Homo sapiens: one gene and its partners. The protein of the gene in region 1 purifies or fractionates together with the protein of each later gene. This does not show direct contact. Each region holds a gene or a part of one and is shown in the gene's direction. Other genes may lie near its edges. The genes, in order: GPSM2, PABPC4L, LSM11, AASDH, TTF1, CALD1 and ECT2.

What was found.
Region 2: the proteins of GPSM2 (region 1) and PABPC4L purify together in Homo sapiens (affinity purification with mass spectrometry; one large-scale study listed by BioGRID and IntAct). This does not show direct contact.
Region 3: the proteins of GPSM2 (region 1) and LSM11 purify together in Homo sapiens (affinity purification with mass spectrometry; one large-scale study listed by BioGRID and IntAct). This does not show direct contact.
Region 4: the proteins of GPSM2 (region 1) and AASDH purify together in Homo sapiens (affinity purification with mass spectrometry, with the first as the bait; one large-scale study listed by BioGRID). This does not show direct contact.
Region 5: the proteins of GPSM2 (region 1) and TTF1 purify together in Homo sapiens (affinity purification with mass spectrometry; one large-scale study listed by BioGRID and IntAct). This does not show direct contact.
Region 6: the proteins of GPSM2 (region 1) and CALD1 purify together in Homo sapiens (affinity purification with mass spectrometry; one large-scale study listed by BioGRID and IntAct). This does not show direct contact.
Region 7: the proteins of GPSM2 (region 1) and ECT2 purify together in Homo sapiens (affinity purification with mass spectrometry; one large-scale study listed by BioGRID and IntAct). This does not show direct contact.

Annotation. Positions count from the first base shown.
Region 1 is NC_000001.11:108,875,734-108,879,784, forward strand, and holds the start of GPSM2 (G-protein-signaling modulator 2), read left to right. Parts: upstream 1-1,251; 5' UTR 1,252-1,495; intron 1,496-1,797; exon of another isoform or gene 1,798-2,041; intron 2,042-4,051. UniProt on the Homo sapiens protein: Plays an important role in mitotic spindle pole organization via its interaction with NUMA1. Required for cortical dynein-dynactin complex recruitment during metaphase. Plays a role in metaphase spindle orientation.
Region 2 is NC_000004.12:134,198,990-134,203,106, reverse strand, and holds the start of PABPC4L (polyadenylate-binding protein 4-like), read left to right. Parts: upstream 1-1,317; 5' UTR 1,318-1,389; exon of another isoform or gene 1,390-1,861; 5' UTR 1,862-1,913; coding exon of another isoform or gene 1,914-2,087; coding exon 2,088-3,200; 3' UTR 3,201-4,117. UniProt on the Homo sapiens protein: May bind RNA.
Region 3 is NC_000005.10:157,750,212-157,753,711, forward strand, and holds part of LSM11 (U7 snRNA-associated Sm-like protein LSm11), read left to right. Parts: intron 1-1,178; coding exon 1,179-1,318; intron 1,319-3,500. UniProt on the Homo sapiens protein: Component of the U7 snRNP complex that is involved in the histone 3'-end pre-mRNA processing. Increases U7 snRNA levels but not histone 3'-end pre-mRNA processing activity, when overexpressed. Required for cell cycle progression from G1 to S phases.
Region 4 is NC_000004.12:56,380,992-56,384,491, reverse strand, and holds part of AASDH (beta-alanine-activating enzyme), read left to right. Parts: intron 1-150; 5' UTR 151-192; coding exon 193-422; intron 423-1,894; coding exon 1,895-2,015; intron 2,016-3,500. UniProt on the Homo sapiens protein: Covalently binds beta-alanine in an ATP-dependent manner to form a thioester bond with its phosphopantetheine group and transfers it to an, as yet, unknown acceptor.
Region 5 is NC_000009.12:132,382,841-132,386,340, reverse strand, and holds part of TTF1 (transcription termination factor 1), read left to right. Parts: intron 1-3,500. UniProt on the Homo sapiens protein: Multifunctional nucleolar protein that terminates ribosomal gene transcription, mediates replication fork arrest and regulates RNA polymerase I transcription on chromatin.
Region 6 is NC_000007.14:134,964,634-134,967,931, forward strand, and holds part of CALD1 (caldesmon), read left to right. Parts: intron 1-672; coding exon 673-753; intron 754-3,298. UniProt on the Homo sapiens protein: Actin- and myosin-binding protein implicated in the regulation of actomyosin interactions in smooth muscle and nonmuscle cells (could act as a bridge between myosin and actin filaments).
Region 7 is NC_000003.12:172,753,726-172,757,225, forward strand, and holds part of ECT2 (protein ECT2), read left to right. Parts: intron 1-783; 5' UTR 784-805; coding exon 806-935; intron 936-1,569; coding exon 1,570-1,649; intron 1,650-1,757; coding exon 1,758-1,850; intron 1,851-3,257; coding exon 3,258-3,440; intron 3,441-3,500. UniProt on the Homo sapiens protein: Guanine nucleotide exchange factor (GEF) that catalyzes the exchange of GDP for GTP. Promotes guanine nucleotide exchange on the Rho family members of small GTPases, like RHOA, RHOC, RAC1 and CDC42.

The DNA of each region.
Region 1 (4,051 bases):
CACTGCAACCTCCGCCTCCTGGGTTCAAGCAATTCTCCTGCCTCAGCCTCCCGAATAGCTGGGATTGCAGGCGCCCACCACCAGGCACGGCTAATTTTTGTATTTTTAGTAGAGACGGGGTTTCACCATTTTGACCAGGCTGGTCTCCAACTCAGGTGATCCCCCCGCCTCGGCCTCCCAAAGTTGCTGGTATTACAGATGTGAACCACCGCGCCCGGCCGGTATTTTGTGAAGAACAAACTATAAGGTGACTACTATTTTGGGGTCACCTTGACATGGAGGAGAGGTGAATGGAAATAAAACTTATTCTTCCCAGTGTCTTTAGAATGTAGGCGCTGAAACTGAGTGAAACTGAGTAAAACTGCCACCCAATTTTCCTGGGAACCAGCGATTCTGTAGTCAACAGAAGTTTGCTTTTCCAACAGCTGGAAACGCCAGGGTTGGGCACAGCCTCAAGAACTGAGGCTGCCTTGTTCAGACTTTCACACGGTCCCTCTGTTCCTTCCACAGAGGCCTCTTTTTCTTCTATATCCCGCATCTGCCGCTTGGGACACTCATTCTGTAGCGCAGCACCAAGTCTTCCAAAAAGGCGGCGCTGGTTTTGCGCTCCTTTTTTAAAGGGATCTAGGCCAGCCTCTATCTGAACTCTGTACGATGTTTTTTGTTTGTTTGTTTTGTTTTGTTTTTGAGATGGAATTTCGCTCTTGTTGCCCAGGCTGGAGTGCAATGGTGCGATCTCCACTCACGGCAACCTCCGCCTCCCGGATTCAAGCGATTCTCCTGCCTCAGCCTCCTGAGTAGCTGGGATTAAAGGCATGCGCCACCACTCCCAGCTAATTTTGTATTTTTAGTAGAGACGGGGTTTCTCCATGTTGGTCAGGCTGGTCTCGAACTCCCGACCTCAGGTGATCCGCCCGCCTCGGCCTCCCAAAGTGCTGGGATTATAGCCGTCCGTCACAGCGCCCGGCCAACTCTAGACAATATTTATTGCTCTACTTTTTAGTGTCTGAAGAAGAAAGAAGAGGACAGGAAAGAAACTTCAGTCTGAGGGTTGAGGACACGTCCCGGAGCAGAGGAGGACCAAGCTCCCAAGCCCCCTGTCACCTTGACACGCAGACGGTTCCCCAGGACTGCGAAGAGGGGGGCAACCAGCGCCCCGCCCCGCCCCGCTGCGCCGCCCGCCATTGGCCGGTCCGAAAGACGCGGGGCGTTGTCGGTTTGAATGAGAGCGCCTGGAGCCGGGGCGCAGGCGCAGAGGAGGGCGGTGTTGAGACCGGCGGAGCGGCGGGACCCCTAGGTGGCGGAGGGACGCTCCGGGAAAGCGAGGGGCGCTACGAGCTCTGGCCCACGTGACCTGCCGGGGGCGGGAGCAGGGGGCGCGCCGGCCTCCTGCGGTGCCCCTGCCTTGGGGAGGGGCCGTGACCACCCGTCTGTCGCCCGAGGCGGCCGCCGCTGCACCTTCACCGCGTACCCGGGACCCGCCCGCCCGCGGGAGGTGAGCGCTTCCGCGACGCGGGTTCTGAGGCGTTTGAGGGGCTCTCGGAGGGAGGTGACAGGGAGGGGTGCGTGTGCGTGCGTGTGGGGCTTCTGTGTCCAGAGGTCTGGGGGTGACGTCCTTTGTTTTGGGCAGGAGGCGGGCTGGGGGCTTGCGGGACCTGTGGGCGCTGCGGGGACGCGGCGTCGATGCTCAAGAAACCAGAAACTCGGCTTGAGGAGTTGCTGCTTTTTTGTCGGAAGGTCTTCAAATGAGAGTAAAGCGTTAAGAGCCTCACTCCTGAGTCTTTTTTTTTTTTTAAGATAAAAACTATACTAGAGTCCAGCGACTTCTTACCACTCTGAATGTGAGTAACAAATTGTGAATCAAAGCCCGAATCCCCGTGGAATTCATTCCGAGGCTGATTGCAATCACTTGGAGTCGGGCGCGTCCTACCTAAACCAGGCAGTTTATGGCAAATACCTGCCTTGACCGTGCTTAAATTAGTGAACTTTTGGGCACCAACTGGTCGATTTACCATAGAAATTGGTAGTTGCTGCAAAAAGAGTAAGTAAACATAAAACGTTAAGAAAACTCTTTCCTGAAATCTATAGAATACCTTCGAATAAAAAAAAATCTGTAATTTCCTTGTTTTAATAGTAACCAGTTAGAGCATTTGAACTAGTAGCATTTGAACTCTGTTAAAGAAAACGAGTAAGGATGGAAATTTTATTGGCCTTAATGCATAATTTAACCACACCGTAGAATTAAACGAAGTAGGTTCTTGGCTTTCCTTTCTATCGGGTTTGCATTGGAGCGTTCGTGGGGTGTGTTGGAAGTCAGCAGGACCAACAGAGCTGAGTTTTCAAGCTGCCACTTTAGAAGGGTGTACCGAAGATTTCTGGCCTGATAATAGCCGGTGTGATTGCTTCTGATAAATACCACTTTTGATTGGGTTCTCACTATTCAGGAGCAGCTTTAGTTGATTGTTTAGAAGTGAATAAACAACATTAAAAAGGGTAGATCACTGTTGGTTGACATGGTGTGTGTAAGGAGAGGGGGGCCTCAGGGATTAGGGGTGGTCTCACACCTACTTCTCTTTACAACTACCACGGAGTCGTTTTCGCAAGCTATTTCCCAGGCTATTACTTATAATTTAAGTATTGGAGCGGTTTCAAAGTAAAAAGTTGTGTGATGTTGTTGTAGAGGCATGTCTCCAAAATCCTCTCTGGCCAGATAAGCAGTTTAATTGTATTTTCTTACATTCTTAAATCAGATATTCGGTGTTACAAACATATTTTAATATAGATCTGAGACTTGCTTACTAGACTAATTAAAACAGTGATAAGATATAGTAGTTTTAAAAATGACCTTTTCATAAACATAAAATATTTCTAAGATCTATCTTTAGAAATTTGTAATTAGTTCTCTGGAATTTTAAAATGGAAAATCTGACATAGATTTAGGTTATTCTAAATTTATTTGAATATATATTAAATATGTCTATTTTATAATAACAGTTACTGTTATTACTACAGCACTATGTTGAGTACTTTTGTTATGTATCAGAGCCAGGTGCTGGGTCAGGTGCTTTATAAATCATGTCTGTAATTATCACAGCACATTTTAGGTAAGTGTCATTATGCCCACACCAACTGAGAGTTTAGCGTAAGATCATATAACTAATAAGTCACTGTGCCGAGATTCAAATCATGGCCTGATCCCAAAGCACATGCTGTATTGCTTCTGTGTGTCTGTTTAAATCTCTGCTGTGTCTCTGGATTCCATTTGTAGGGACAAGTTCTACTTTAAAGATGCCTTTAGGTGCTGTGTTTTGTTGTAGCTTCGCAGAAATATTTCAATCTTTCTGTTGGAACTATCTTGCTTCATTATTTTATAAATCATCTTATAAATCACATTATATTTTCAATATCTTCTTAATCATCTTTATACAAAACATAAGTGAAGAGTAAGACTTTTCTGAGTTTCTTACATAAATATGAATAGAATCTTTACTGTGGAGAAGAAATGTATTACAGTCCGGTTTTCTCACTATTGTAGGATTCTTTGGCCTCGTCATAATTCCTGTCTTCTTCCCAGGGAAGAAATTAAAGTTTGTTGGGCCTCTCTTATGTGCAAAGCAATGTCGTTGGTGTTGTGAGATGACAAGAAAATGCTTCCTATTCAGTAGTTGTTTCTGGAGTTTTTGTAGTATTTTTCTTTTCTCCCCATTCCTGCCTTATATGTTGCTGCTGGTTTATCTTCCTAGCAGAGATCCAACTTGGCTATTCCTTTGTGGGGAAAAAATACCAGCAAGGTTCCCCATTGTGTAAATAAAAGGCTGAGGCCGGGTACGGTGGCTCACGCCTGTAATCCCAGCACTTTGGGAGGCCGAGGTGGGCGGATCACGAGGTCAGGAGTTCAACACCAGCCTGACCAACGTGGTGAAACCCCGTCTGTACTAAAAATACAATAGTTAGCCCAGTGTGGTGGCACACGCCTGTAATCCAAGCTACTCAGGAGGCTGAGGCAGGGAGGCGGAGGTTGCAGTGAGCCGAGATCGCGCCACTGCACTCC
Region 2 (4,117 bases), on another chromosome or scaffold:
TCTGTTAAGCAGAGCAGAAACTTTATTTGTTGTTCAAAGAGTAGAGAAGGTGAGCTTCCCATTCACCTTTTCCCCAGGTGTGTGCAGAAGGGGGATTTTTAAGGTCTCTTAGAGCATGAAGGTGGAGACTAAGGATGCGAATTCCTGGAAAGAGGTGGGACTTTCCAGAGAAAACTAGAATGTGTGCAGTCTTGTTCTTTCTTTTGCACTGGGCACTTACTATATGTGCCTAGCAAAGGGCATCTCTCCCCACTGGGCAGAGATTTTAATATGATAAGGAAGTGAGGATTCAGGTCTGTCTGAGTAGCACTGCCAAGCTGAGTTTTTATCTCGTGGCTTGTTTGTGGCTACTGGCATCCAGCCCGGCTTTTGTTTCTGTAAACAAGTACAACTGAGACCACAGGTTAATTTCATAGGTTCTGGCACTCTTGGAGAATCAAGGTCATGCTACCGTGACAGTAACTTATTGACTCTCTAAGATGCATTATGATTCAAATTTTAAGGATTCATTAGATACTAAAGAATTTTATTTAATGCTAAAGAAAATGAAATCATTGTTACTGGAAACCACTTATGTATCTGATATTGTGTTATCCATTTCCAAATCTATTAACTCATTTCACACGTAAAATACTCTCTAAGATAAGTGCCACCGCCTCCATTTAACTAGATGTGAAAACTAACCTGAGGCTAAGATTTGTTCAATAAATACTGCACATCCCTTGTCTGCAAGTCCCTGAGAATAAAGTGCACATGGCTTCTATTGTTACGAAATATGCAATATTTTGTAATTAGACAAAAGCCGGCAAGTACAGGGTAGTGTTAGAGTTTCTAAGAGGGAAACCTAAATTGTCAGAGGGGTTTAGAAAAAACATCTATTTGGAAAGAGCATTTTAACTCATTTCCGAAGAACACATTTTTATAAAGTTGGCTCTGAAAAACGCTAGTGTGTCTTGGAGTTTTGTAAGGGGAACTAAGCAGCAGTTGAGGCTGGAACATTTCAGGAATCCTGCAGAACTTTATAGAACAAGGTGCGGATGTTGGACCTTATCCAAAAGTCAAAGGAAGCCACTGGAGGGTTTGAAGCCAGGAAGTGACAGGCCCTGATCCACATTTGGAAAGGCTCCTTCACTCAGACCCATGCAAAGCCCTGCGGGCGGGTGGGTTTATTGGGGCCACTCCCCTCGGCTGCCTTTCTCCACCCCAGTCACCGCCTCCTGCTTCTCAGCTTAGCCATCTGAGGAGGGTGGGAAACGTGTAATAGGGGCGGGGGGAAGAAAAACGTTCTTAAAAAAAATATTAAAAAGAAAACATCCCACTTGGCAGCGAGTGCGCGGGAAGTTCAGCGCGCGAGTTCCGGGCTTCCCGCCCGCCCGCAGACGACCGCCGGTGAGCCCCCAGCCCCCGCCTGGCCGCCCGCTTCGCCGCGTCCGTCAGTCCGTCGGTCTGTCAGCCTCCCCTTCCCCCACGCCTCCTTTCTCCGGGCGCCGCGCGGGTCGGGAGGTCGGAGGGGCCCCCTAGGTCTTCAGGACGCCCTTGGCCCGCGTCGCTGCCGGCAGCGCCTCGGCGGCGGCGGCGCCTGCAGAACCCGGTACCTGGCAGGTTCGGGTCTCTGCCGGGCAGAACCTCGCAGCCCATACTCCACGGCTGGGGCCTCTGACGCCTCCGCTTGTGGAGTTCTTCCCTGAGCGGCTGTAACTTTAAACCACTCTGAGCGAGGCCTATTTTTATTCAGAAACCAGCGACCAGGGCGTCTGTGGAGAATGCTCAGATGGAGGGCCAGCCCGCCACTTGAAGTTTTCTCACAAATCTGAGGGGAAGGAACGTCTTGTCCTAATAATCTCTCTTTGCGATTTCACAGTTCTGTTGCCGCGTCCTAGGAGGGCCAGATTGGTGGCTGTGGGGACTTTTGGATGAGGGTGTTGCCTGAGCTGGGGGAGTCGTGTCTGAACTCCATTGCTTGGCCTTTGTGTGGTGATCCCGAGGCCTCCACACTTGAACCGGGCCAAAGCTGTGACCTAGTATCCCCCCACAGGGATTGCTCAAAGAACTCCAGGGGACAAACTCACAGTGGCAAGGACAAGGAGATGAATGTAGCAGCCAAGTACCGCATGGCCTCCCTGTATGTGGGTGACTTACATGCAGATGTCACCGAGGACCTGCTGTTCAGGAAGTTCAGCACTGTGGGGCCTGTGCTGTCCATCCGCATTTGCAGGGACCAGGTCACCCGCCGCTCTCTGGGCTATGCCTACGTGAACTTCTTGCAGCTGGCTGATGCCCAGAAGGCGCTGGACACAATGAACTTTGACATCATAAAAGGCAAATCCATCCGTCTCATGTGGTCTCAGCGCGATGCCTACTTGAGGAGATCTGGAATTGGGAACGTATTCATCAAGAATCTGGACAAATCTATCGATAACAAAACCCTTTATGAACATTTTTCAGCTTTTGGAAAGATCCTTTCCTCCAAGGTGATGAGTGATGATCAAGGCTCCAAGGGCTATGCATTTGTGCACTTTCAGAACCAGAGTGCTGCAGACAGGGCCATTGAGGAGATGAATGGAAAACTACTCAAGGGCTGCAAGGTGTTTGTTGGCAGATTCAAAAACCGAAAAGATCGTGAAGCTGAACTCAGAAGCAAAGCCAGTGAATTCACCAATGTTTACATAAAAAACTTTGGAGGTGACATGGATGATGAGAGATTGAAGGACGTTTTCAGCAAATATGGCAAAACTCTGAGTGTTAAGGTGATGACAGATTCCAGTGGGAAATCCAAAGGCTTTGGCTTTGTGAGTTTTGATAGCCATGAGGCTGCCAAGAAAGCTGTTGAAGAAATGAATGGAAGGGACATAAATGGGCAGCTGATTTTTGTAGGCCGGGCTCAAAAGAAAGTCGAGCGACAGGCTGAGTTAAAGCAAATGTTTGAGCAGCTGAAAAGGGAACGAATTCGTGGGTGCCAGGGGGTAAAACTCTATATTAAGAACCTTGATGACACCATCGATGATGAAAAACTACGAAACGAATTTTCTTCATTTGGATCAATTAGCAGAGTTAAGGTAATGCAGGAAGAGGGGCAGAGCAAAGGGTTTGGCTTGATCTGCTTCTCCTCTCCTGAGGATGCTACTAAAGCAATGACTGAGATGAATGGCCGCATCTTGGGCTCCAAACCTCTTAGCATTGCCTTGGCCCAGAGACACTAGGAAAGAAAAACGTACCTTTCCAGCTAGTATCTGCAGCAGGTGGGAGAATGATAGTGATCTCTGCCTGAATTGACCTCAGTAAATTTCATATTCCACATGATGGGTGCTTAGTTTAGTAAACTTTATGATAAAACGTTTTTTATACAAAGCCATTTTTTTTCTTTTGTGGAAAAATAGATGGAGCTTAGTTCATTTTACAGAGGCACATTTTCTAATTTTAATATTGCACATTTTTCTTATTTTGATATGTTCATAGCAATAAGTATAAATAGATATATTTTTACATTTGAACCAAATGAAATGAGGTAATTATTTGAATTTATTGCATATTTATTATTTTAGTAATATTGCTAGCTTTAATTTCTTCTATGAAAATATGCTCAAAATAGTTCTTACAACTAAAGATTCCAAAGTATTTTTACCAACAGAAATTTTCTAATTTTTCATCCAAGTTTTGAGAAATCAAACTTTTAGAAATTTATAGTACGAATTTAAAGACCTAATTTCATTTTGAATTAATGCTTAAAATAGTCAGATATAGTTGAATTTCTTTTAAATTTATATCCTGACATGCTTGTTTTTCGGATGGTTTAAATTAAGATGATGGAAGTTTTTAATGTTGCCTAAAAACTGGCTTTATGTGTTTTGTTCTTTCCATTAGTTGACTATAATTCAGGTACTTACTAGTTAATCTAAATTGTAACTTGCACTGTAAAACCTTAACTTCTACATTCCTTAAGTTATAAATCTGTTATCAACTCAGGTGATCCAAAGTTGGCCTGGTCTTAAATCTCTTCATACCTATATGGCTTAATATATTATCTTAAATTTTTACCAGATGCTAATATTATGAAAATCATACATACAGATTATAGAAATTCTGTTTAAAAACTTTTAAAATCTCTTTTATATTGTTT
Region 3 (3,500 bases), on another chromosome or scaffold:
CTGCACTCCAGCCTGGGTGACAGTGAGACCCTGTCTCAGGAAAAAAGAATGTGTACGGCTTTCTTTTGGGAGGTTTTATATACCATAGCCAGCATATTGTGAGAGCTGAGTTAACATGAAATAATAAAAATAAAATTCATCTTTCCTCCCACGCTCTGAGAATCCTTCATAATAAAAGCTGAAATTTATAGTCTCAATATTCTTCCTATGAGTCATTATCCTGCTCTCTTCACATGATGCTTATTAGTAGTGTCATAGGAGCCAGATACTCAGCCAGGTGCCTTTTACACTGTCAGGGCTTGGGCCAGAACCAGTGCTTTTCCTCCCAGAAACACCAGTGAGTCCAGAAAGCTTGTGCATGGAGTAGCTTTGGTGGGGTCAAAGGCCTTTCTTTCTGACAGGATTGTACATGTTTAAGGGCAGAGTGCAGTTTGTTTCCTTTGAACATGTAAACAAGGTTTTTGTTTTTTTGGAAGACTCAAGCTGGATATGTGATTCATGAATTGTCTTAAGGCACAGAATTGAGAAGGATCTCGCTGTTAATGTATACATTTAATGTTTGCGTGCCCGTGTGTGTGTGTGTTTCTCAAGATGGAGTCTTGCTCTGTTGCCCAGGCTGGAGTGCAATGGTGCGATCTCGGCTCACTGCAACTTCCACCTCCTGGGTTCAAGCCATTCTCCTGCCTCAGCCTCCTGAGTAGCTGAGATTACAGGCATGGGCCACCATGCCTGGCTAATTTTTGTATTTTTAGTGGAGATGGGGTTTCACCATGTTGGCCAGGCTGATCTCAAACTCCTGACCTCAGGTGATCCGCCCACCTCAGCATCCCAAAGTGCTGGGATTACAGACGTGAGCCACCACGCCCGGCCAACCCCAAAAGTTAAGTGATAGTGCATGTTAAAATCAGTGACATCGTGGAATAAGAGATATACCGGTAGTGAAACATTTGGCTGATATTCATACATATGGATGATCCACATTCTGTTGGAATCTAGTCTTGTGTCAGTGTGTGTTGGCCGTACGAGCCATGTTGCCCATTGGACCTTCCTGTTCCAATAGTGAGATTGTCACTCTACCATGGGCCACATGTTGCTGGCCGAAGTTGGGTGGTCGTGGCTTAATTCTGGGAATGAGGGCAGATATTAAAACTGTCCTGACTGTTCTTCTCTTGTTTCAGTGCACGAAGGCAGCCCTCTGGGTGAACTCCATCGCTGTATCCGTGAGGGGGTGAAGGTGAATGTTCACATCCGCACTTTCAAGGGACTTCGGGGCGTCTGTACAGGCTTCCTTGTTGCATTCGACAAGTTCTGGAATATGGTAATTAAGCCTTTCTCAAGGGGCTGGAGAACCTCCTACAGATTATATCTTCTATAATATTTAAAGGACCTGAGTAACTGCATTAAGTAAAACCCAAAAAATAACTTCTTAGAAGAACTAGAATTTTTGCATACTTTTGGGCAACAACAAGAAAAGGTCTTTTTATTGCTTCCTTCTCCTTAAGGCAGTGGCTCTTAACCAAGGTAATTTTGTTCTTCCTTCACTCCCAGGAACATTCATCAATGTCTGGGGACATTTTATTGTCACCACTATAGGAGAGGGTACTACTGGCATCTAATTGGTAGAGGCCAGGGTTGCAGCTAAACAGTCTACAACACACAAGATAGTCCCTCAACAACAAAGAATTATCCAATCTGAAAAGTCCTTAGTGCCAGGGTTGAGAAACCCAGCCTTAAGGACCAATTATTTTATCGGTTTAGTAATTTTTAGTTGATTTTCTACCAACCATTCTTTCATTAATTAAGAAAAACATTTATTGACTTCCCATTTTGGCTGAACCCCATGCTAGGTGCAAAAGTTTCAGAAAGGAACTTGCACTTTACAGTACATGGGAAGGTAAATAAGGATAGAGGTGAAGCAGACATCAGTAAACAAAGCATTTTGCATGATGTCTTTTTTTTTTTTTTTTGAGACAGTGTTTTGCTCTTGTCACCCAGGCTGGAGTGCAGTGGCACAATCTCAGCTCACTGCAACCTCCGCCTCCTGAGTAGCTGGGATTACAGGCCCCTGCCACCATGCCCAGCTGATTTTTGTATTTTTAGTAGAGACAGGGTTTCACCATGTTGGCCAGGCTGGTCTTGAACTCCAGACCTCAGGTAATCCGCCTGCCTCAGCCTCCCAAAGTGCTGGGATTACAGGCATGAGCCACTGCGCCCGGCCACATGGTGGTTTTATAATGAGGGAGTGTGCCACACTTCCTAGCCTTCTAGAGGCTTACTTTTTTTCTAGACATTTGTAGGAGAGAAGGGATATGTAATAGCACAACTATAATTTGAGGTAGTTAAGAACTACTAGGCTGCACGCGGTGGTTCACACCTGTAATCCCAGCACTTTGGAAGGCCGAGGCAGGCGGATCGCCTGAGGCCAGGAGTTCAAGACCAGCCTGGCCAACATAGGGAAACCCCCATCTCTACTAAAAATACAAAATTAGCCAGACATGGTGGCACAAGCTTGTAATCCCAGCTACTCAGGAGGCTGAGGGAGGAGAATCACTTGAAGCTGGGAGGCGGAGGTTGCAGTGAGCCGAGATCATGCCACTGCACTCCAGCCTGGGTGGCAGAGCGAGACTCTGTCAAAAAAAAAAAAAAAAAAAAAAGAACCACCAGAGCTTTCTGGTGTTTCTTTTCCATATGGTCTTCTATCTCCAACTTTCCTTTTCCCTGTGCTTTATCCCCATCCACGCATCCTCCTGGATAAGAACAGTAGCTGCTAACATATATTGAGTACCTGCTATGTGCCAGGTACTATACTGAGGGCTTCATATATTATCTCAATGAATGAGTTGTGGGTACTATTACTGTTCCATTTCACAAATGAAGAAATTGATTCTAGAGAGATTGGAATGTTGGTCGCAGATCACACTGTTAGTAAGTGGAAGTGCCAAACTTTTTCCTCGGCCTAACTCCTAAAACCATGTTTTTAACCATTAGGGAATTTGAATCCTAGCATCATCACTTGGTAACTGTGTGACTGTAAGCAAGATAATTTCTCTGAGCCTCAGTTTTCTCATTTCCAAAATGCAGGGAAAAATGTTTTATTATGATCTTTTTACCTTTGAAGAATTGAAGAGAATGTGTTAGATGATAGTGGTGATTATAACAGTACTGTCAGCTTCTATTTGTAGGGTGATTTACACTTTTCAAAGGAATTTGTCTTGTACTTCTCATTTGGTCCTAACAGCTGTCCTGTCGAGGTTGCTCTCGGTGATGAGAACTCACCAGCAATTCTGTGTGTAACCCTGGTTAATCTCTGTTAATTGCTTTCATAAGACATAGAAACTGAAGCGGGTAAAGAAGCAGTAATGTTCCTCAAAGTGGGATCTAAAGCCATCCTGCATCAGAATCACCTGGGGCTTCTGGTTGAAACAAAAGGTTCCTGGGCTTCATCCCAGACCTACCAAAACAGAATCTCCAGCAGAATAGCTTTGGGTTCGTATTTTAAT
Region 4 (3,500 bases), on another chromosome or scaffold:
TACCATAATTTCATAAGTTCAGAGATTCTTCATTTATATATCTTTGATATAATTATTTTTGTGAGATATTATTGTAGAGAAGTTTTTCCCTGTCCCTCCACCGAGCTCTCTAAAACTCCCTCTCCCCCTAACACTTCTGTATATACACAGGGTTCTGTGCTACAAATTGATGTTTAGATAAACTTCAGTGAAATGACTCTTCAGGAATTGGTGCATAAGGCTGCCTCCTGTTATATGGACAGAGTAGCTGTATGTTTTGATGAATGCAACAACCAGCTTCCAGTTTACTACACCTACAAGACTGTGGTTAATGCTGCTTCTGAATTATCAAATTTTCTGCTGTTACACTGTGACTTTCAAGGAATTCGGGAAATTGGTCTCTACTGCCAACCTGGGATAGACTTACCCTCTTGGATTTTAGGGTAATATTTTTTAGAACTGTAAATTTGATGTTACTCCAAGCTAATGTAAATTTTTAATAGAGTATATTGCAAGTTATTGTTCTGTTTACTATTGGACTTTTCTATATTGTTTGGTCAATTGTAGAGAGACTAAAGAAGTTTGCATTTCCCCAGTATTATTTTTATATTATTTAAATTAATTATTCTGAGCTTATTTAGGAAAGACTAGAAGCTTTCACTAATAGAACGTATAAGTATCTCCAAAATGTAAGGGCTTCATTAATCTGTTAAAGGAAAACAATTATAACAATTTATAACACTTTGTTGTTAGATAAAAGAAAACAGGATTTCACAGATAACATGACTATGTTTTTTGTCCGCAACTGAAATTTGAGGCACTAAGGTATTCAATAAATCAGTAAATTAGAGTTTTGGATAATAGTTGATATAGATTGAAATATGAACCCATTAGAAGACACTATTCCAACAAATATTTGCAAAATGTTCAATCATTTAAATTGTTCTAGAATGTTATCCTCATATAGTGATTTCTATTCTAGAACTCTGCAGTAAGTATAAACTGCCAAAGAAATAGTTTATTCATTCTATAATATGTGTCTTAGTAAATTAATTATATAAATATAAAGCAAAAGATGTTCAAAAATTTACTTTTGGCCAGGCACAGTGGCTCACACCTGTAAATCCCAGCACTTTGAGAGGCTGAGGCTGGAGTATTATTTAAGGCCAGGAGTTCGAGACCACCCTGGTGACTTCACAAGACCCCATCTCTATAAAACAAATAAAAACAACAACAAAAATTTACTTTCACTCAATTATTGACGAAATTTATTGAGAATTTACTATGTGCAAAGATCTAGTGTCCTTAAAGTATACCTGAAACTACTTAAAATGCTTAACTTTAAAAAAATCTTGTATTTCTCTATATTAAGTGATAAGAATTTAACATAGTAAATACTCAGGATTTTCATTAAGAAAAGATAAAATGACAGTGTTTATGTATTTATTTATTTTTGAGATGAAGTTTCACTCTTATTGCCCAGGCTGGAGTGCAACGGCGTGATCTCGGCTCACCGCAACCTCCGCCTCCCGGGTTCAAGCAATTCTCCTGCTTCAACCTCCCAAGTAGCTGGGATTGCAGACGCCCGGCTGATTTTGTATTTTTAGTAGAGACAGGGTTTCTCCATGTTGGTCAGGCTGGTCTCCAACTCCCGACCTCAGGTGATTCGCTCGCCTCAACCTCCCAAAGTGCTGGGATTACAGGCGTGAGCCACCGTGCCCGGCTAAAATGACAGCGTTTATTACCAACTATGTGTCAGTGAAAACATTGGAAATTTCTGATCAGCAATAAAGTGCTCCGGAAACCATTTTTATGCTGCTACAAAAAATAAATAAAGTGCATAGAGAAATAGAAATGCTTAAACAAATACTAAATCAACAGACATTCTATGCTGACTGTGTACTTTTTTCTTTAGAATTCTCCAAGTCCCGGCTGCTTATGTACCTATCGAGCCAGATTCACCACCGTCATTATCAACTCATTTTATGAAAAAATGTAATCTAAAGTATATCCTTGTTGAAAAAAAACAAATTAATGTAAGTCTGGATGTTTCAATTGTTTTTTGCCTGTATTACATTTATTTCAATTGAAACATTCCTTCCTTCTCCCATCTGGATTCCTAAGTCTGCTAAATGTGGCAAGGTTTCTCAGTCTTTGCACTATGACATTTTTAGGGTTGAGTAATTGTTGTGAGGAGTGTTCCGTATATTATAGGATATTTAGCAATATATTTGACCTCCACTCGCTAGACCTCAGTAGCACCTCCCAGTCATAACAACCAAAAATCTCCAGACATTGCCAATTGTCCCCCAGAGGGGCTCTCCACCCCTCACACTCCATTGTGAGCCACTATTCTGTAGTATGAACAGATCTGTTAGCCTTATAATAATATATTATGCATTGTTTTGAATTTCTCTTTCCAAAGTATTTCCTATACTGCAAAATTTTATAATACTTGGAACTTTCATATTTATGGCAATTACATTGGTCAGCAACACTGAAGAATTATAACTAAGCTTGCATTTTGAAAAAGAGACTGGTACTTAGAGGAGATCTTTCCAGAAAAGTAAATTTATTGTTTTTTTATTTTTAAATGATTGCCAACCAAAGATATAACCAAGAAACTCTGTTTTTGGGGCAAGAATTGGTGTTATATCTTCAGCAAGATGCAGCCCATGCTTCATTGTTTATTTATTATTTATAAAATATTGTTTTACTAAAGGGGAAGAACATTATAAAAATATATTCAATTTAGCCTGTTTTTGCCCATTTTCTATATGAGCCAGTTTGTATTGGGGTAACTTAAATGCATTCCCTGCTTTCACCCCCCCCAACTGTGTGTGTGTGTGTGTGTGTGTGTGTGAGAAGTGTCAAGAACTTGAGGTATATGGGGGACTTTCTAGAGACTCAAAGGGTTTTTTTTTTTTTGAGCCAGAGTCTCACTCTGTTACCCAGGCTGAAGTGCAATGGGCAGTGGTGCGATCTCAGCTCACTGCAACCTCCGCCTCCCAGGTTCAAGCGGTTCTTGTGCCTCAGCTGCCCAAGTAGCTGGAATTACAGGTGCATGCCACCACACCCGGCTAATTTTTGTATATATATTTTTAAGTAGAGACAAGGTTTCACCATGTTGGCCAGGCTGGTCTTGAACTTCTGACCTCAAGTGTTCTGCCTGCCCCGACCTCCCAAAGTGCTGGGATTACAGGCATGAGCCACCACACCTGGTCTGGTTAATAAATATTTTTAAAATAATTACTTATTAGTGTGTAGCCGAAATTTCCTCTACTCCTCAAATTGGTTATTGCATTGTTCATAAGTAAGCAAAACTGAAATGGGGATGTGATGTTTATTTTTCTTAGCAATCTTAGTGAAAATTTTATAAAAGGTAGCTGAGTATCAGTATTAATTGTCAATGTCAAGGTATTCTTTATGACCAGTAGGAGTTGGACATAGCAAAACCCAAAAAGGAGTTGGGCGCAGCAAAACCTTGCTTCCTATCCCATGATTTTGATGATGGTGTAAGT
Region 5 (3,500 bases), on another chromosome or scaffold:
GCTAGGTAGATCAGGTTTTCATGACACTAAATACATCACTAGTTGGATATGTTTTTCATTTTTCTTCCCTTTTTTTAGTGTCACATAGATCATCACGCCTCAGGTGTTTTGTGATTACAGATTTTAGCTAGAGCATAATACCTATGGCCCACCCACCTCCCTCCTATTTCAGTTTTCCAGTGGAAAAATAATCGTGTAAGGAAGTATTACCATACAGTCGAGTTGACCTTGGCAGGCATTGGAGGTGATATTATAGGTACTTTAGTAACAATGAAGTGAATTTTCCCAGTACATACCTTTTATCAATTCCAATTATTGAAAAATCAAAGGCTCAGAATTACTCTTCACCCACCAAATACGAGGTGCCTATATGCCAGGCATTTTTCTAGGCTCTGGGGATACAGCATTGAACAAAAGACAAGTTCCTTGCCTGGTAGAGCATCCATTCTGCTGACACAAATGCCAAGTTTTGTATAGTATAGAATTAACCTAAAAACTACATTGATGATAACGATATCAAACTAATAATAATTATTGACTACCTTCTGTATACCAGGCACAGAGTAGGAACTCACATTTAGTTCTGGGAAGAGACTGTAAACAAATAAGCTCATTTCAGATAGCATGGTACCAAAAAGAAAACAAAAATAGAGTAGAAGGGACGTCGGGGGCAATCAGATAGAGTGGTTAGGGAAGACTATGGAAGCAGAAGCGGTGGCAGGGTAGCCATGCGGGGATGAGACTGAAGATGTTCGGACAGAGAGTAGTGAATGCGGACACCTTGAGCCAGCACTGGCTGGGCACATTCAAGGGACTGGAAAGGGACCAGGTGGCCCAGAACAGTGAGTAAAATGACGGCAGCGATGGGCTGGGTGCGTGTGCAGGCCAGACTCCCACGCCTCAGGGGACTTCAGACAGTTGACAACTCAGCACACGCTCCAGACATCCAGGAGTTCCAGTTACCTTTGTGTACCCAATTTGGAACTTTGTAAACACTAGCAATTCTCTGGTTTTCAGCCCAGCTCTCACTTCAAAATCATCTGGGGAACTTTTAAAAAATACCAGTGCCACGTGAATGGGATTGGTCTGGTGTGGGGTCTGGCTTCGCATGAATGGGATTGGTCTGGTGTGGGGTCTGGCTGTCAGGATTGTTCAGAGCTCCAGGTGACTCAGATGTGTTACCCTGCCGAGACCCCGTGCTTTAGCGCTGGTTAAATGACTTGGTCGGTTCCCAGTTAGAACGTTTTAGTTGTGTGTAACAATTCAAATACAGAACTGAATATCATGCCCCACCCATAAGGAAAAAGGACTTGACTGTTCAGTTTGATTTTGCTGTTTTTCTGGAATAGGTAATAGATTACGTAGTCCAGAATTAAAGAAACGTAGGCTGGGCACGGTGGCTCTTGCCTGTAATCCCAGCACTTTGGGAGGCCAAGGTGGGCAGATCACCTGAGGTCAGGAGTTCAAGACCAGCCTGGCCAACATGGTTCAACTCCGTCTCTACAAAAATACAAAAATTAGCCAGGCATGATGGCAGGTGCCTGTAGTCCCAGCTACTCAGGAGGCTGAGGCAGGAGAATCGCTTGAACCCAGGAGGCGGAGGTTGCAGTAAGCCGAGATCATGCCATTGCACTCCAGCCTGGGCAACAGAGCAAGACTCCATCTCAAAAGAAAAGAAAGAAAGAAAGAAACCTGAAAGGAAACACAGTGAAAAGTGTCCCCTTACCACTCACCAGCCACGCGTAGCCCTACAGGAAACCAGTATCTATTTTCCGTAGATGGTTTATGCAAAATGTCTGCAGGATCTGAGTGATGTTCTGATGGCTAATGTTGGCTATTTATACCTACTCTCTTTTGTTACTGCTTGAATAGGAGTTACCAGAGATTGTCTTTTCAAAGCACCAGCTTTGATTGCGTTGACCCTATCTTGTGATTATTCTAATGTCAGCTCTTTATCACGCCCTCCCTTCAGCTCTCTTTGAGTTTATTTTGCTGCTGTTCTTCAACTTCTTGAGATGGGTTCTTAGCTCATTTTCCATTTTTCTTTCTTTGTAATATACATTTAAGGCCATATGTTTTCTTCTAAGTACTGCTTTATTAGCAATGCCCAATTATTTTTTTCAGAAACTTTATTAGGAAAATTTTAGACAGATACAAAATAAATGAAGCTTCATGTACCCATCACCCCAGTTCAGCAACTGTCAAAATCCAGCCGTCCTTATTAAACATCTACATTCACTCCCTCCAATTACTGTTATCTGTTTTGGTAAATTTTACATACTTTGCAGCCTTAGTACCATTCAAAATTCAAATAATTCTAGTAATTCCATTTCTAGAAATACATTCTACAAAACAACTTCACACATACATGAAATGACTTGTATACAGAGTAACTGACTGCAAAAGGCCTGTTAATAGGGGACTGGCTATATATGTATTTTACCCATATAGTGACATTCTTTATAGCTACAAAAAATCATGAGAAAGCCCCTCGGTGGTGGGGCAAAGAAAGCGCCAAGATACAGTCTTGGGTGAGGAAACACTGCGTGGTTGCAGGGTGGTGTGCCAGCGCCACAGAACAGGAAAGCTGCAATGTGTGTGTTTATTCGAGACTTCCAGTCTCTGTGCTCTGGACCAAATAAATCAGACCAGCCCTCCCTCCAGCCCACCTGCCACCGAAGACACCCAAGAAAGGCAAATGAAATGTATGCAAAGTCTCTTAAAGGCTTCAAAAAGCTAAACAAGTTGCAAGAGTAACAGAAAGAACCCCGCATCCCCTTTACCCATAGTCGCCTCTTCTGAACATTCTGCTACGTTCACTTTATCATCCCTCTCTCCCTCCTCCAAGGGAATACGGTTTTTCCCATAACCATTCAAGAGTTAGTGGCAGATACCACTTCCCAAGCAAGGATGTTATTTTACATAACCATAGTACAATCGAGAATCAGGAAGTTTCACATTGATATAGTACACCCTCTAAAACATAGTCCACATTCAGATTTCACCAGTTGTCCCAGTAATGTCCTTGATAGCATTTTCCCCCTTTAATAATTGTTCCATTTCCTTAGTGTCCTTTTTTTTTTTTTTTTTGAAGACAAGAGTCTTACTCTGTTGCCCAGGCTGGAGTTACAATGGTGTGATCTCAGCTCACTGCACCCTCTGCCTCCCAGGTTCAAGCAATTCTTGTGCCTCAGCCACCTAAATAGCTGGAATTAGAGGCATGCACCACCCTGCCTGGCTAGTTTTTTTTTTAATTAGTTAATTTTTTTTTTTTTGAGACGGATTTTCACTCTTGTTGCCCAGGCTGGAGTGCAACAGCGTGATCTCGGTTCCCTGCAACCTCCACCTTCCGGGTTCAAGCAGTTCTCCTGTCTCAGCCTCTGAATAGCTGGGATTACAGGTACCTGCCACCATACCTGGCTAATTTTTGTATTTTTAATAGAGACAAGGTTTCACCATGTTGGCCAGGCTGGTCTCAAACTCCTTACCTCAAGTGATCC
Region 6 (3,298 bases), on another chromosome or scaffold:
GGTGTGCACTAAAGTAGTAAGGGCTGGGGGGAAAGAGGTGAGTACAAATTGAGTTCATCTGTGAGGCAGGAAATGCTTATCAAACCCCAAATTAATCATTTTTAAATAACCCATGATCTATTGACTTGTAAGAGTGCAGAAATTTAAAATGAGGCTACATTATTTTAAACATGCTCCTGTTTCACTTTTACTGATCAATAAACAGTAAGTCCTTAGGAAAGGGCAAGGACCCCGAGGCTATAGTTCCAGCCCATTCTCATATCATAAGACATGTCACGGTCTATATAAAATCAAACAACAGCTAACCCCATCTCTACTACACATACAAAAAAATTAGCCAGGCATGGTGGCACACGCCTGTAATCCCAGCTACTCGAGAGGCTGAGACAGGAGAATCACTTGAAATCAGTAGATGGAGGTCGCAGTGAGCCAAGATCACGCCACTACACTCCAGCTTGGGCTACAGAGTGAGACTCTGTCTCAAAAAAAATAAAAAAATAAAAAAATCAAACAACAGCTGATGGTCCTTTCAATTCCATTTCAGATCACTGGGGTAAAGTGTATTAAACAACAAACTGATTCAAATAAACAATAGATGTGGCCATTTATTTAGAGCTGGCTAGAAAATATAAATGGCCACCTATCGATGTTTTTCTGCTTCCTTTTTATCAGGACTTGAGACCAGGAGACGTATCCAGCAAGCGGAACCTCTGGGAAAAGCAATCTGTGGATAAGGTCACTTCCCCCACTAAGGTAATCTATTGGGAAGACTAGTATTTCAGAGGTTTGTTTTCCTGATGTATGGTGTAGTATAATGTCCTGGAGTCAGATGAGAAATATCACTGACCTACAGATCTTTGCCTGCACACCCATCAGTGTCTAAAAGACCAGTACATAACACAGTGAAATGAAAAGCGCATTGCAAGTTTGTCAGTCATACAACATAAACGGCCCAAATCCATGGAATGGTTCTCAGTAGGACATTCTCAATACACCACAGTGGTAGGAACATTGGCAGCAGAAGGCCGTATGGGATACCATGGTCTACGTTTCCTTACAAGGTCCCAGCTTAGTGCCACAGTCATTTAAAAATCACTTGGGGAAAACATCTGTCTCCCTGAGTGTTTCCAAAACTGCTTTCTGGAACCATTTTAGATTACATTGCCACTGCCAGCAGCCTAAGACTCAGGGTTGCTATGGCCAAAAAAAAAAAAAAAAATATTCAAAAGTAAGGCAACCATTTACCACCCTGTGAAAATGAATGATTAAGAATGATTGGGTTCCTCTTACTTTTAGTCTTCTGGTCAAAGGATATGGTCATTCTTCAGAAAGGAGGCTCTGAAGAACATCTAAATGATGCTTACACTGCAAATGGGACCCTTTGTGGTACAATGAGCTCATTCAACTCCCAACTGTAGCCTTTCCCCATTTCAAGTAATAGACCTCGTGTTCTCCTTCAATAAAAAGAAAATTAAAAAGGGAGAAACTGGAGACCAACAATAAGCAAGGTTAGAACAGGCTGCTTATGGGTTGATTTAAACAGAAGCACTTCGTAAGCAAACTCAGGACTAAAGAGCACATCAACGGCAACTAGAGAATCACTACAATTCACTGCAGTGAGAGAATTACCTTCCCTTTCCCACTTTCTCATGCTCTTAGTTCTGGTGCAGCTACCTAAACATATTACCCCACCTTCACTATTAGCTACGTATTGCGCTTTTATTCCATTAAAATCCACTAGCCTTTCTAAGTCATTGCTAAACATATGAAAAGTACCTGCTGGTAATTATCACATTGCTAACTACTAGCGCTACAAGTGAGCACCCCACTATATGCCAGACACTATTCTACCTTCTTACCCTCCATTATTTCATTTGATCCTCCAGTCACCATGTGAGGTAAGTAGTTTATCATTCTCATTTTGCAGCTGAGAAAAATGAGGCATTGAGAGATGAAGTAACTTTCCCAAAGTCACACAGTGAATAAGTAGCATAGCCTGCATTGATACTCCAGCACCTGATCCGAGCCTGCATTTTTAACCATTATACATGGTACTTTCTTTTAGGATGCATATTCAGGAGAAAATGTATAGTTATTCAATTCCTTGTATAATTTTCTCTCGGTGGCAGGGGAGAAAAGAACTTTCTTTGTTATTTTTTAAACAAAGAATGAGCTTGTTGACCTAAGCTTTTATGACCTCTCTAGCCTATGCTATTAGCGCATTGCAGGTTTGTCAGCCATGCAATGTAAATAGCCCAAACCCATGGAATGGTTCCCAGGAAGACATTCTCCACACACCACTGTGGGAGGAACATTGACAGCAGAAGGCTCTCCTCTCAGACCTCTGAGAGGTATCTGACTTCTCAGAATGGCAGTCCCAGTGTTTATATAGGTTCCTGTCTGAAAAGCAGATGTCAGCTGGCCATAGACCATCATCACCAGTATAACGGAGTCTCTCTGGATAACATTCCTCCTAGCCAGAGCTCTGGAAAGTGGAACAAAGATGATGTGGAATGGTCAGACTCAGAGAACACCACTCACATACAAACATGAATGGTACTCCCTGGAGTTATGTAGCACCAGGGCAGTACAAGGTAGGAGGGTGACAGTGTGAGTTTTCATGTGCCACTAACTTCTTTCTACAGTAGTAATAATATAACCACCAGACCGAGAACTGAGTTTATGAGGTAGCAGATTAGGTACCTCTTTTGCTCCAAACTGTCAAACTCATTTCTTGTTACTCAGTCATTCCTTAGAAATGAATACAATGAACACCCTTGAAAATTGGAATTCACAACACTTTAAGATTTCTTAATAGCTTGGCAAAAATTTTTAGCAACTAGCTGAGGGGGAGAGAATGGTGTAAGAATAGGACTATAGGTCAGATAAGTCTCGTGGGGTAGGGGTGTAAGAATAGGAGGGAGAAAATAGAGATTGCTAGATTAAAAATGGGAGAAAACTAAAGATAAACATCCTCCTTCACCATCATACATTGATGTGGCCCTCACTGAGCTATTCAGTCGCATGTGCCTGTTCTGGAATACACACTGTAGATTTTTGGCTCTTACAGTGGGGCTTAAAAATGAAAAAAACAAAGCAACTTACTTGACTCTAAATGCTATAAGCAAGGCCAAAAGTTAAGACAGGAAAAGAGAACATCAAGGAGAAAGACAGGAAGAGGGAAGTGAAAAAAATCAGCAGAAGGAAGGCTAAAATAAAATAAGATCCAGCCAGGCGCAGTGGCTCACACCTGTAATTCCAACACTTTGGGAGGCCGAGGCAGGCAGATCACTGGAGG
Region 7 (3,500 bases), on another chromosome or scaffold:
GAAAAATAGCTGAGAAATTCATTGTTGCTGTTGCATAGATTGTATAGGGACTGGGGTAGTTACAGATGGTGAGGGTGAATAGTTAGGCGGGGACCAAATTGTGAACTTGGTGGTGAATTTGGACTTGGACATATAAGGAGTACTCATGGAAGTTGTTAAGCAGGGAAGTGATATGGTCACATTTGTATTTAGGTGCATATTCCTGAAAACCATGTGGAGAGTGATTTCTAAGGAAACTGATGGTAAAGTTGTGTGGAGCTGGTTTATTAGACCAAGTGACCATTGTGTCATTGAACGTATAGAGAAGGGGGGCCAGATTCCAGAGATACTTGAGGTGGGATTGATAGGAATTTTGGGGAGGGAAATGTGGGAGAGGAAAAAATTAGGATAGATCTCAGATTTTTGGCTAGGATTTTTGTGGGAGGTGTGTTATGGTGGTGTTATAATTGAATATAGGAAGAGAAATTGGTTGAGGGCAAAGGTGTGGAGAAGGGAGGTAGAATAATATTTATGACTACAGTTGAGTGTTTGTTGTATGTCTAGTAATGTTCTATGTGCTTTTGATACATTGTTATTTTTATTATATTCCTGTGAGTCAGGTATTAGTATGTTTATTTTACAGAAAAAGAAACTGAGGCTCAGAGAAGGTCAGTGACTTTCTTTGGTTCATTAAAAAAATGGGTAATAATACTTTTTATAAATTCTAGGTAAAAAGAGCCTCTAATACTTACTTTTGCCCAATGACCATGTTTATGTATTTTTATTCAAATTTTATTTTTTCAGCTGATTTAGAAGAATACAAATCATGGCTGAAAATAGTGTATTAACATCCACTACTGGGAGGACTAGCTTGGCAGACTCTTCCATTTTTGATTCTAAAGTTACTGAGATTTCCAAGGAAAACTTACTTATTGGATCTACTTCATATGTAGAAGGTAAACCTGTTACCTGCTTTAAAACAATCAATTTCTATTTTAATTCTAAACTTATTAGTGACTTTCTTAAGATTTAATTTTAATACCAACTGTAATGCTAGAGCACAGGTATTAAGTAAATATTTGTTTACAGAATCCTTTTACACTATGTCATTTTTCTGATTATTATTTGGGTTATTTGTATGCTTTGCAGCTTTGAAAAGGGAGGCATCTTAATTTGGATATTCCTTTTTCTGTATGTGAGGGCGGTCTAGCTACAGCATTATTAGCTAGAAGTTATACAGTCATGACTGGTTAGGTGAAAGCTACTTTTTCCTTTACCACTTTATAAATGGGTTTTTCCTAAAATTATATGCACTGTTGAGGAGGATGACTATGTAAGATAGCGCATTCTCTGGCTAGGAGGAATGCTGATGTTTGTATACCCTGCTACAATATGGTTTCTCTTTCTCTAAAGTGATATATAGCCAGATATTTTTGTAATAAGTTGGGAGTTGAGTCCTATTAAATTTAGAGAAAGTTATGATTCCCTCAAAGATGTAATACATACTAGATATAGCCAAAAGAGCGATAAGGACCTACTGATTGTGATGTTAATACATGATAAACATTGAAACATTTTACATTTTAACAGAAGAGATGCCTCAGATTGAAACAAGAGTGATATTGGTTCAAGAAGCTGGAAAACAAGAAGAACTTATAAAAGCCTTAAAGGTACGGAGTTTTAGGTTTTAGTTTTTTTTGTAATGCAATTTTTCTTCCATCAGTGTGTAAATAGTTTCATAGCTTTCTTAACCTCATACTTAAGTCTCTTTTCCACAGACTATTAAAATAATGGAAGTCCCTGTTATAAAGATAAAAGAAAGTTGTCCTGGAAAATCGGATGAAAAATTAATAAAAAGTGTTATTAATATGGTAGGTCAAAGTAACTCATTGCATGTGGCATGCTGCACTTCCCTTGATTGTATTATTCTACTTTCTGGTGATTGGAATTAGGCACAAGGTGTATTGTGTGCAATCTGAAGCTTAATGAATAGAAACTGTTTTATACTTTTTAACTCCTTAGCTTCTTTTTTCTCATTCATTTTATATTTAGTCTAAATTCTTGCTGTATTTCCAAAATTATAAATCACGGTAATTTATAATCAGGGAATTTGCCTCAGCATACGAAATAATCTAATTCTGGAATCCAGCTGTTTTAGTTTGCTAGGGCTGCCATAACAAAATACCACATAGTTAATTGCTTAAACAGTAGAAATTTCTTTTCTCACAGTTCTGGAGGCTAGAAGTCCAAGATTAAGGTGTGTGTAGGTTTAGTTTCTCTTGAGGCCTCTCGCCTTGGCTTGCAGTGTCCTTTTGCTGTCCTCACATGGCCTTTCTTCTGTGTGTCCTTGCATCCCTGGTGTTTCCTCTTATTGGGACACCAGGTTGGATTAGGGCCCACCCCTATTATCTCATTTAACCTTAATTACCTCTTTAAAGTCCTTATCGCCAAATATAGTCACACTCTAAGGACTTCATTCTTCATTCTAGGTTAGGGCTTCAACATGAATTTTGGGGGTACATAATTTAGCACATCACACTAGCCTTGCAAATAAAATTCAAATAATTTACTGACCCATTTTGAGTTAAAAAAAAATTTTTTTTTTAATTTAACACGAGTTACAAGAGTTATATAGGTACTTTAGTATCTTCATTATTTTTCGTGGATGTATAAAGTGTTTACTGTAAGTAACTTGCCTTTTTATATCCTACATTTGCCATGCTGCAACTGCTACATATTGCACATCTTTCTCATATATCTTACATATCTGCTAAAATGATTATGCTGATTTTCCTTTCTGTAAGTATTAAGTGCTATAGTATTATTTTCCTATTTTTCTGAAGATAGTTAATTTGTACAATAAGAACTTTATGTATGGTATCATTTTCTTGGTCAGTAGTGGATATCTTTCTAATGCATCTTGATATCAAAATGCATGTACTTAAAAACTTTAGCATTCTAATTTTATGGAACTTATGCATACTTGATGATTTATGACTAATAAGTAATAAGTCAGAATTATGCCTTTATAATACTGATCTTTAAAATTTAAGAACTTAATTTGAATGGAGATATGTATATGTAAAAATGTAAGTACGTAAAGAAATATGGTTGTTCATTAAGTGTAATGCTGATTATTGTGTGATAGAAACTTATTTTCTACAAATATAAACATGTTAAAGTTGATATTGAATTGATTGTTAAGCCTTATTTAGAGAGACAGATGGATTATTTGATATATAAATAATTTTTATTTCTGCTAACTATATGATGAAAAGGACATTAAAGTGGGCTTTGTAAAGATGGAGTCAGTGGAAGAATTTGAAGGTTTGGATTCTCCGGAATTTGAAAATGTATTTGTAGTCACGGACTTTCAGGATTCTGTCTTTAATGACCTCTACAAGGCTGATTGTAGAGTTATTGGACCACCAGTTGTATTAAATTGTTCACAAAAAGGAGAGGTAAGCATATACATTTATTATGACTTTTCAAGTTAAAATTTTTATTAATGAATTTTAATT